Regions from separate parts of the Homo sapiens genome. Here region 2 is linked to region 1. Evidence: fine-mapped expression QTL. A gene starts in region 1. The other region holds a variant in brackets. All regions are shown on one strand. Distances are from middle to middle.

Region 1 (5,364 bases):
TACTCTCATCTCTGGTTCCATTCCAGTTCAGCTAAGTCTTGCTTTAAAATTTTTACCTCCTAGCTGGGTGCGGTGGCTCACGCCTGTAATCCCAGCACTTTGGGAGGCTGAGGCGGGCAGATCACAAGATCAGGAGTTCGAGACCAGCCTGGCCAACCCAGCCTGGTCAACATGGTGAAACCCTGTCCCTACTAAAGATACAAACAATTAGCCGGGCGTGGTGGGGTGCGCTTGTAATCCCAGCTACTCAGGAGGCTGAGGCAGGAGAATCGCTTAAACTCGGGAGGTAGAGGTTGCAGTGAGCCAAGGTCACACCATTGCACTCCAACCTGGGCGACAGGGCGAGACTCCGTCTCAAAAAAAAAAAAAAATTTACCTCCTTTGCAGGCCATAGGACTAGCCCAACTATGAGAAATAGCTGTTCTGTGAACGTGAAAAGGGGACAGCAGTTTTCCCAGTTTTGGCCAGGCAGTCAAGCCTTTAACAGCTCATGCACAGTTTAGGCCATGTACAGCTGGCATCTAATAAATGTTTTCATGAAAAAGATTTTCTAGCCAAGGTCCCTTTTTTGGCAAGCATCTGGTGTCAGTCTTCCTAAGATTCAGATATGTGGTCCAGGAGGTTACCCCCACTGGGAAGGCTGATGTGGGAAGAATCATACCTGGGTGTTGCGTGTTCTGCCGAGAGTGGGGTCCTGAGGTCTCCATGGTTCTGAATGCATTCCAGAGATTGGTTGAAGAGGGGCCTGTACCTCCCAACCCCAGCTTGTGTAGGAAAGCCCTACATAAGGGCTCAGCCCTCAGTCACTGTGGGGTAGGTAGCTGTTTAATAACACACACCATATACCTCCCACAAACCTGGAGGCTCCACAGGACCTGAAAAGCTTTTCATTTTATTGATCATGAATCTGAGGGCAAAAGACCTTTGTTTTCATTACAATACTGAGCACTAGACTTCTATTCTTCTGCCACAGAAGTGCATCCCTAGGATTTCTGGAGCTTCCTACCTGACCTAATTTCTGTCCACCCTCCTCTATTCCTTCCTTTGCTTTCTTCTCCCTTCCTCCTCGCACTACCTCTGTCCTCTCTCACTGGCCAAATGCAATTCTTGGATCTTAGATTTCGCTGATAGTCTAGTTTTCTGTCTCCCACACTTTTCCTGCTTCTGTTGTGCTTCTTTTCCAGACCTGTCTAGTTCCCAACTCATCTGTCTCCCTTTCTCACGGTCAGCTTTATCCTGCCCTCTCCCTTCCCTACATACCTCCACCTTTTGTTCTGAGTCCAGTAAGTCCCTAAAGGAGATTATAACTCTTTAAGAATTGCCTCCTTTTTCAGTGTAGAGGTGGAACTAAACCCCAGAGTCCCAACTCCCAATCCCTTCTTTTACAATAATTTCACCCAACTTGATTTGCTTTCCCCCAGATCCCACGGCCTTGTACCCTTTTCCTCCCAGCGAGTTCCAATTAAAGGTGCAGCCACATTACAAATGACAATAAAGGAATCACCTTTGTCTTTCTACAAAGGTTGGAGCCACAGATCCGGTATGGTTGTGGGGTTTGTTGTTGGTAGTTGGGTTATAGTTTGGATTTTTTAGCAGCAGAGGGAGGGACATAGACAGTTGTCTACAGGGCCCAGAAGATAACCCCCTATTAGTAAACTGGCCCCTTCTCCCTCTGCAGGTCTCATGGGCATGGAAGAAGACCCCACCACCATCCCACACTCTGAGCTCCTCGTTGCCCCTAGCCACATAGCCCCCAATAATTCCCACCCTGAGGTGAGACAAATGCTGAATACCAGAGGAATCAAGCCACTCAGAATATGCTTATAGGGACAAAGTCTCCCACATCCCGTCCCCTGGATCCCCCTACAGCCCCCTGCTGTCCATCGCGGCCTCAACCCCTGCAGATGGCAGCCTGCACCACAAAAAGGCAACTTAGAGGTGTTTTTTTTTTTTTTCCTTCCAGTTCTTGGTTGTAATTGGATTCAGGCTAAAACAACCACGTCCCCAACCAGGAAAGGAGGGCACTGGGGCGGGGACGGAGGAGAGGCTGTGGGAGAAGGGAGGGACCAGAGGAGAGAGCGAGAGAGGGAACCAGACCCCAGTTCGCCGACTAAGCAGAAGAAAGATCAAAAACCGGAAAAGAGGAGAAGAGCAAACAGGCACTTTGAGGAACAATCCCCTTTAACTCCAAGCCGACAGCGGTCTAGGAATTCAAGTTCAGTGCCTACCGAAGACAAAGGCGCCCCGAGGGAGTGGCGGTGCGACCCCAGGGCGTGGGCCCGGCCGCGGAGCCCACACTGCCCGGCTGACCCGGTGGTCTCGGACCATGTCTCCCGCCCCAAGACCCCCCCGTTGTCTCCTGCTCCCCCTGCTCACGCTCGGCACCGCGCTCGCCTCCCTCGGCTCGGCCCAAAGCAGCAGCTTCAGCCCCGAAGTAAGTGAGCTTCCCGGCCCTTCCCGGAGTCGCGCCCGCCGGGAGGCGAGCCCGGGGGTCTCCTAGGGGACAGCCTCTATTCGGAGAGGAGGGCTTTTGGGATCTCCGCTGCTCAGGCCTGCAGGATTCCCCCTCCCTTTCTTTTTCCTCTTCGTCTCCAAACTTCCAGATCGATCCAACTTTTGCCCGCTTCCAACCAGCTGCCCCCACCCCCTGCGCCGCCGACTCTCCTTCCCATTCCTTCTTTTTTCCCAGTCCTTGGAAGAACTTTACAACTGGGGCGAACTCCCCCTTCCCCGATTCCCTTGGGCTCTGCTCTCAGCTCTGGAACCGCCTGATAAACATTTGGACTCCGCTCAAACCCCGCGCTGTCCCGGCTCCTCGTCATGCGCGAGAGTTTGTTGTTTCTTCGACTTCCCAGCTCTCCAGCGCTCTCCCGCCGGCGCGCCCTCCGATGGGCGCTTCGGCCTCCCCGGGTGGCCCAGGCCTTCAGCGGACGAGTCTGCGGCCAGGTGGGGGTCGAGGGTGGACGGCCGAGCGTCCAGGGCCACAGCCCCCGTCTCCCCGAGAGGACCCCGCTGTGTCCCTACCCGCATCCCTGGCGTCGAGGGTCGCAGCGCCGGCGCGCTGGCCGCGTTTCCGTACACACAAAGCTCTCCTTGTGAGCCGGGCGATCGGCCGGGTCGCTGCCTCCCCCTATCCCCACCCGCGTCGGCGCCTTCAGGCCCTTTTTGTTGTTAATAGTTTTTCTGTGTTAATTGCAGGGAGCCTGGGGGCGTCGCTTGGGGAATGGGGAGAGGGTCTGGTCCGGGGTGCCCTCACGTCGGGGCTGGCTCGGGCGCCCCCCACCCTCACCCCGGCCCAGACGGTGGCCCACCGGGCCCCAGAGGAAGCTGCGTGGGAGTTGTCTGAGGAGGTTTTTCCTCTCTCTCTCTTATTTTGGGGTGAAGGTGGGAGACGGATTTAATGAGCTTCTTATTTTGGGCCATCTCAACCCACTCAGCCTGGCAAGGGCCTGGGTGCGGTTGGGAGGGGCCAGGAAGGGCCCTAGAAGGGGGATGGGATATGGGTTTGGCTTCTCCTCCTTGGTCCCACCCCGGAGAAAACTCTTTGGAAAGAATACTGTCTTCTCTCTGCGTCCCTGAAAGGGTCTGGGGCCGACTGGAAAAGTATGGCCCCAGGAATCGGGGTGGAAGACGAAACGTGGAGTGCTCAGAGACCAGGGAGAGTAAAAACCTGCCCTGGTGCTGGAGGCTGAGCCTGACTGTCCGGGAGGAGTCGTCCTCTTCCCAGGCCTAGAGTCCTCTGAGACCTGAAAGGGAGCGCCCCTAACAAAACGAGCCTGAGCATCTGGGGAGCTGCCGACCGCCAACTTCACTGCCTTACCTTTTTTCCCTCCCCTGCTTTGCTGGGTCCCCCAGGGGAGGGGCGGCTGCCCTGGCTCCGTTTTAATTGGGTCATGGGCGGTCCCAGTGCCAGAACCACCATTTGCTTCTGGGCCCAGGAAGGGAGGGAGGAGCAGCCCCAGAGGCTAGGATCCAGGGCCTACTGCAGAGCTGGAGGTCCCCCCACCCTCCCCTGGACCCCTAAGCCAAGGTGGGAGGTGTTCCGTTGACTTTCTCCTAGGGGATACCTTGCATCTCTCTCATTCGCAAAGACAAAGCCAGCCGACTGGGTTCTTTGACCCAACATAGTTGCTTTTTTCTCCAGGCCAATGTGGAGGGAAAGCTGGGGTGGTGCAGGCCTCATGCAGCTGGGTCCCTCCTACCAGGCCTCCAGAGTCCTGCACCAGCTCCAGGACAGCCCTCTCCTCCCCATGGCCTGTCTGGCGCTGGGCCCTTCCTCCCACCCAGCCGCAGACACAAGAGTCCTCTCTTCTGTGGTTTCGACCTCATAGTCTCTGTGAGGAGAGAAACTTGCCTAGGCCTGGGGGGAGGAGAGGGATGGGGGCACTTCCTTTCCAGGCCTTGCGGCTCTCTTGACTCCAGGGAAGTCCTTCATTTGACTGAGCCTTCATTTTTCTCCCGAGGGTATGGGGTGGAGGTTGTAGGTGTGAATATTTAGACCCCCCTAGCTTCTTGAACGACTCCAGAGGGGATTTCCCCCAGAGCTCCTGGATGTGGATTCTCCCCATCTCTTCTGTCCCGTCTTCCTTCTGTCGTTCTGTCTTCTCCCCATCTTCCTTCTGTCGTTCTGCTCTAGGCAAATTCTCTCAGCTTTGCTCTCTGAGGGTTGACGGGGCCTGGCCTCAGTCCTCCTGCCTTCCAGCGTCAGTAGACCAGTCCCATCCTTCCCCAAGTCCTGAAGCAGCTGCTCCTCAACCAAGGGTCATAAGCCCGGGGTGTGTTTATCCTGCAGGTATGCTAGGGGCAAAAGACATTTCCTGCATAGTTAGGCACAGGCCACAGCAGGCCTCCCCAGGCACTGGCTGTGGCATCAGCCAGAACAGGTCAGGGCAAGCCTGCAGCTCCCTGAGAGCAGCCCCGGACTGGTGTGGACTGCTTGGCTCCCTCTGGTATACCAAAGGTTAAATGTCACTCCTTCCTCTACCCCTGAGGAGGGGCTCTCAGAGCCTCAGAGCTAGGTGGTGCTAGGGTTGTTCTAGCCAAGACTGTTGGCTGGGAAAAGGCTGGGTTGTTTACATCTCGGGTTCTAGCTCGCATCAGCCTTGGGGGGGGATCACTTCCCAGAACCATGTTGCAATTCTTGCCCCTGTGGGCTCAGGTCCCCAGTCAGCTGCTCTTGAGTCACCCCCAGTCCCCATGCAAGACTACTGCCCCATCACCAGGACCTGAGCCCAGAGGTGAAGGACCATGTGGCAATCCAATCCTGATGACCTTGGCTAGGAGATACAGCACCCAACAGCAGCCTCCCCCATCTCCCCTCCAAGATCCCATCCTGGGCAACCTACAGCCGCTTCCTGAACTCCC
Region 2 (5,364 bases), 290 kb before region 1:
CTTGCCAGCCCCACAGAGCCCCGCCCTTGTCCATCACTGGCATCTGGACTCCAGCCTGGGTTGGGGCAAAGAGGGAAATGAGATCATGTCCTAACCCTGATCCTCTTGTCCCACAGATATCCAGAACCCTGACCCTGCCGTGTACCAGCTGAGAGACTCTAAATCCAGTGACAAGTCTGTCTGCCTATTCACCGATTTTGATTCTCAAACAAATGTGTCACAAAGTAAGGATTCTGATGTGTATATCACAGACAAAACTGTGCTAGACATGAGGTCTATGGACTTCAAGAGCAACAGTGCTGTGGCCTGGAGCAACAAATCTGACTTTGCATGTGCAAACGCCTTCAACAACAGCATTATTCCAGAAGACACCTTCTTCCCCAGCCCAGGTAAGGGCAGCTTTGGTGCCTTCGCAGGCTGTTTCCTTGCTTCAGGAATGGCCAGGTTCTGCCCAGAGCTCTGGTCAATGATGTCTAAAACTCCTCTGATTGGTGGTCTCGGCCTTATCCATTGCCACCAAAACCCTCTTTTTACTAAGAAACAGTGAGCCTTGTTCTGGCAGTCCAGAGAATGACACGGGAAAAAAGCAGATGAAGAGAAGGTGGCAGGAGAGGGCACGTGGCCCAGCCTCAGTCTCTCCAACTGAGTTCCTGCCTGCCTGCCTTTGCTCAGACTGTTTGCCCCTTACTGCTCTTCTAGGCCTCATTCTAAGCCCCTTCTCCAAGTTGCCTCTCCTTATTTCTCCCTGTCTGCCAAAAAATCTTTCCCAGCTCACTAAGTCAGTCTCACGCAGTCACTCATTAACCCACCAATCACTGATTGTGCCGGCACATGAATGCACCAGGTGTTGAAGTGGAGGAATTAAAAAGTCAGATGAGGGGTGTGCCCAGAGGAAGCACCATTCTAGTTGGGGGAGCCCATCTGTCAGCTGGGAAAAGTCCAAATAACTTCAGATTGGAATGTGTTTTAACTCAGGGTTGAGAAAACAGCTACCTTCAGGACAAAAGTCAGGGAAGGGCTCTCTGAAGAAATGCTACTTGAAGATACCAGCCCTACCAAGGGCAGGGAGAGGACCCTATAGAGGCCTGGGACAGGAGCTCAATGAGAAAGGAGAAGAGCAGCAGGCATGAGTTGAATGAAGGAGGCAGGGCCGGGTCACAGGGCCTTCTAGGCCATGAGAGGGTAGACAGTATTCTAAGGACGCCAGAAAGCTGTTGATCGGCTTCAAGCAGGGGAGGGACACCTAATTTGCTTTTCTTTTTTTTTTTTTTTTTTTTTTTTTTTTTTGAGATGGAGTTTTGCTCTTGTTGCCCAGGCTGGAGTGCAATGGTGCATCTTGGCTCACTGCAACCTCCGCCTCCCAGGTTCAAGTGATTCTCCTGCCTCAGCCTCCCGAGTAGCTGAGATTACAGGCACCCGCCACCATGCCTGGCTAATTTTTTGTATTTTTAGTAGAGACAGGGTTTCACTATGTTGGCCAGGCTGGTCTCGAACTCCTGACCTCAGGTGATCCACCCGCTTCAGCCTCCCAAAGTGCTGGGATTACAGGCGTGAGCCACCACACCCGGCCTGCTTTTCTTAAAGATCAATCTGAGTGCTGTACGGAGAGTGGGTTGTAAGCCAAGAGTAGAAGCAGAAAGGGAGCAGTTGCAGCAGAGAGATGATGGAGGCCTGGGCAGGGTGGTGGCAGGGAGGTAACCAACACCATTCAGGTTTCAAAGGTAGAACCATGCAGGGATGAGAAAGCAAAGAGGGGATCAAGGAAGGCAGCTGGATTTTGGCCTGAGCAGCTGAGTCAATGATAGTGCCGTTTACTAAGAAGAAACCAAGGAAAAAATTTGGGGTGCAGGGATCAAAACTTTTTGGAACATATGAAAGTACGTGTTTATACTCTTTATGGCCCTTGTCACTATGTATGCCTCGCTGCCTCCATTGGACTCTAGAATGAAGCCAGGCAAGAGCAGGGTCTATGTGTGATGGCACATGTGGCCAGGGTCATGCAACATGTACTTTGTACAAACAGTGTATATTGAGTAAATAGAAATGGTGTCCAGGAGCCGAGGTATCGGTCCTGCCAGGGCCAGGGGCTCTCCCTAGCAGGTGCTCATATGCTGTAAGTTCCCTCCAGATCTCTCCACAAGGAGGCATGGAAAGGCTGTAGTTGTTCACCTGCCCAAGAACTAGGAGGTCTGGGGTGGGAGAGTCAGCCTGCTCTGGATGCTGAAAGAATGTCTGTTTTTCCTTTTAGAAAGTTCCTGTGATGTCAAGCTGGTCGAGAAAAGCTTTGAAACAGGTAAGACAGGGGTCTAGCCTGGGTTTGCACAGGATTGCGGAAGTGATGAACCCGCAATAACCCTGCCTGGATGAGGGAGTGGGAAGAAATTAGTAGATGTGGGAATGAATGATGAGGAATGGAAACAGCGGTTCAAGACCTGCCCAGAGCTGGGTGGGGTCTCTCCTGAATCCCTCTCACCATCTCTGACTTTCCATTCTAAGCACTTTGAGGATGAGTTTCTAGCTTCAATAGACCAAGGACTCTCTCCTAGGCCTCTGTATTCCTTTCAACAGCTCCACTGTCAAGAGAGCCAGAGAGAGCTTCTGGGTGGCCCAGCTGTGAAATTTCTGAGTCCCTTAGGGATAGCCCTAAACGAACCAGATCATCCTGAGGACAGCCAAGAGGTTTTGCCTTCTTTCAAGACAAGCAACAGTACTCACATAGGCTGTGGGCAATGGTCCTGTCTCTCAAGAATCCCCTGCCACTCCTCACACCCACCCTGGGCCCATATTCATTTCCATTTGAGTTGTTCTTATTGAGTCATCCTTCCTGTGG[T/C]AGCGGAACTCACTAAGGGGCCCATCTGGACCCGAGGTATTGTGATGATAAATTCTGAGCACCTACCCCATCCCCAGAAGGGCTCAGAAATAAAATAAGAGCCAAGTCTAGTCGGTGTTTCCTGTCTTGAAACACAATACTGTTGGCCCTGGAAGAATGCACAGAATCTGTTTGTAAGGGGATATGCACAGAAGCTGCAAGGGACAGGAGGTGCAGGAGCTGCAGGCCTCCCCCACCCAGCCTGCTCTGCCTTGGGGAAAACCGTGGGTGTGTCCTGCAGGCCATGCAGGCCTGGGACATGCAAGCCCATAACCGCTGTGGCCTCTTGGTTTTACAGATACGAACCTAAACTTTCAAAACCTGTCAGTGATTGGGTTCCGAATCCTCCTCCTGAAAGTGGCCGGGTTTAATCTGCTCATGACGCTGCGGCTGTGGTCCAGCTGAGGTGAGGGGCCTTGAAGCTGGGAGTGGGGTTTAGGGACGCGGGTCTCTGGGTGCATCCTAAGCTCTGAGAGCAAACCTCCCTGCAGGGTCTTGCTTTTAAGTCCAAAGCCTGAGCCCACCAAACTCTCCTACTTCTTCCTGTTACAAATTCCTCTTGTGCAATAATAATGGCCTGAAACGCTGTAAAATATCCTCATTTCAGCCGCCTCAGTTGCACTTCTCCCCTATGAGGTAGGAAGAACAGTTGTTTAGAAACGAAGAAACTGAGGCCCCACAGCTAATGAGTGGAGGAAGAGAGACACTTGTGTACACCACATGCCTTGTGTTGTACTTCTCTCACCGTGTAACCTCCTCATGTCCTCTCTCCCCAGTACGGCTCTCTTAGCTCAGTAGAAAGAAGACATTACACTCATATTACACCCCAATCCTGGCTAGAGTCTCCGCACCCTCCTCCCCCAGGGTCCCCAGTCGTCTTGCTGACAACTGCATCCTGTTCCATCACCATCAAAAAAAAACTCCAGGCTGGGTGCGGGGGCTCACACCTGTAATCCCAGCACTTTGGGAGGCAGAGGCAGGAGGAGCACAGGAGCTGGAGACCAGCCTGGGCAACACAGGGAGACCCCGCCTCTACAAAAAGTGAAAAAATTAACCAGGTGTGGTGCTGCACACCTGTAGTCCCAGCTACTTAAGAGGCTGAGATGGGAGGATCGCTTGAGCCCTGGAATGTTGAGGCTACAATGAGCTGTGATTGCGTCACTGCACTCCAGCCTGGAAGACAAAGCAAGATCCTGTCTCAAATAATAAAAAAAATAAGAACTCCAGGGTACATTTGCTCCTAGAACTCTACCACATAGCCCCAAACAGAGCCATCACCATCACATCCCTAACAGTCCTGGGTCTTCCTCAGTGTCCAGCCTGACTTCTGTTCTTCCTCATTCCAGATCTGCAAGATTGTAAGACAGCCTGTGCTCCCTCGCTCCTTCCTCTGCATTGCCCCTCTTCTCCCTCTCCAAACAGAGGGAACTCTCCTACCCCCAAGGAGGTGAAAGCTGCTACCACCTCTGTGCCCCCCCGGCAATGCCACCAACTGGATCCTACCCGAATTTATGATTAAGATTGCTGAAGAGCTGCCAAACACTGCTGCCACCCCCTCTGTTCCCTTATTGCTGCTTGTCACTGCCTGACATTCACGGCAGAGGCAAGGCTGCTGCAGCCTCCCCTGGCTGTGCACATTCCCTCCTGCTCCCCAGAGACTGCCTCCGCCATCCCACAGATGATGGATCTTCAGTGGGTTCTCTTGGGCTCTAGGTCCTGCAGAATGTTGTGAGGGGTTTATTTTTTTTTAATAGTGTTCATAAAGAAATACATAGTATTCTTCTTCTCAAGACGTGGGGGGAAATTATCTCATTATCGAGGCCCTGCTATGCTGTGTATCTGGGCGTGTTGTATGTCCTGCTGCCGATGCCTTCATTAAAATGATTTGGAAGAGCAGAGACTGTGCCTCTGTTTGACTGGGTTTGGTAGGAGTCATTTTCTGCTTGCTGGTGATCACTAGCTGGGCAGAGAAAAACCAAGGCATTTGTCTATGATGCTGTCCAGGAAGCCTCATTCAACAAGCTGCCTAAGTCAACCTCTTCTTGGAATAACCTCTAAAAGCTTCCGCTTAGCAGGCTATGCTGAGGGCCAGGAAAACCCACCTACCAGCTTGGACCCCTCCTCTCCCACTCTCATGCCACGCCACGGGACCACCCATAACAGGAGCCCACACACATGGGTGGCAGTGACCTGCGGCAGACAGGGACCACACAGCAAGTGTCCCCAAAATGCCACCCACTGTCTCCTGCCCTCCAGGAGCATTTCCTTTGCCTCTCCTCTCAGACTGGGTTTCCACTGAAACTGTGCATTGTCTCACAAATTCGTGGCTGGGGACCACCCACCACTCTGCTGCCTGATCCAGCCCCACGCCAGCCCTTTGAGGTGCCCAAGCTGACACCAGGAGCAAGGTTGAGAGGAAGCTGTGACCCCAGCAGGACTTTATGTTCCCACCATCCCGGATGTGAGAATGAGGAAAAAAGGAGATGAGCTGTCTC

Which allele goes with the higher level. Alleles are on the strand shown, and positions count from the first base shown. SD is a standard deviation of normalised expression in the study named.
For the expression in iPS cells of the gene that starts at base 2,094 in region 1, T is the high allele of the variant in region 2 and C is the other (moderate effect, 0.41 SD a copy in HipSci).

What was found. PIP is the estimated chance that this variant, and not a neighbour inherited with it, causes the effect.
Region 2: its variant is the best candidate, but not a certain one, in a credible set for the expression of MMP14 in iPS cells (HipSci, PIP 0.55).

What each region holds. Positions count from the first base shown.
Region 1 is chr14:22,834,492-22,839,855 of GRCh38, forward strand. MMP14 (matrix metallopeptidase 14) reads left to right here and starts at 2,094. Exons shown (of 10, transcript NM_004995.4): 1 at 2,094-2,434. The coding sequence starts at 2,327. MRPL52 (mitochondrial ribosomal protein L52) reads left to right here. Exons shown (of 5, transcript NM_180982.3): 5 at 1-546. RefSeq lists a silencer at 1,752-1,968.
Region 2 is chr14:22,547,390-22,552,753 of GRCh38, forward strand. It overlaps TRA and TRAC. Among named protein-coding and RNA genes, the nearest start is that of LINC02332, 7.0 kb to the right of the region's middle. RefSeq lists enhancers at 2,878-3,017, 3,108-3,187, 3,198-3,357, 3,448-3,497. The variant T/C (reference allele first, on the strand shown) is at 2,831.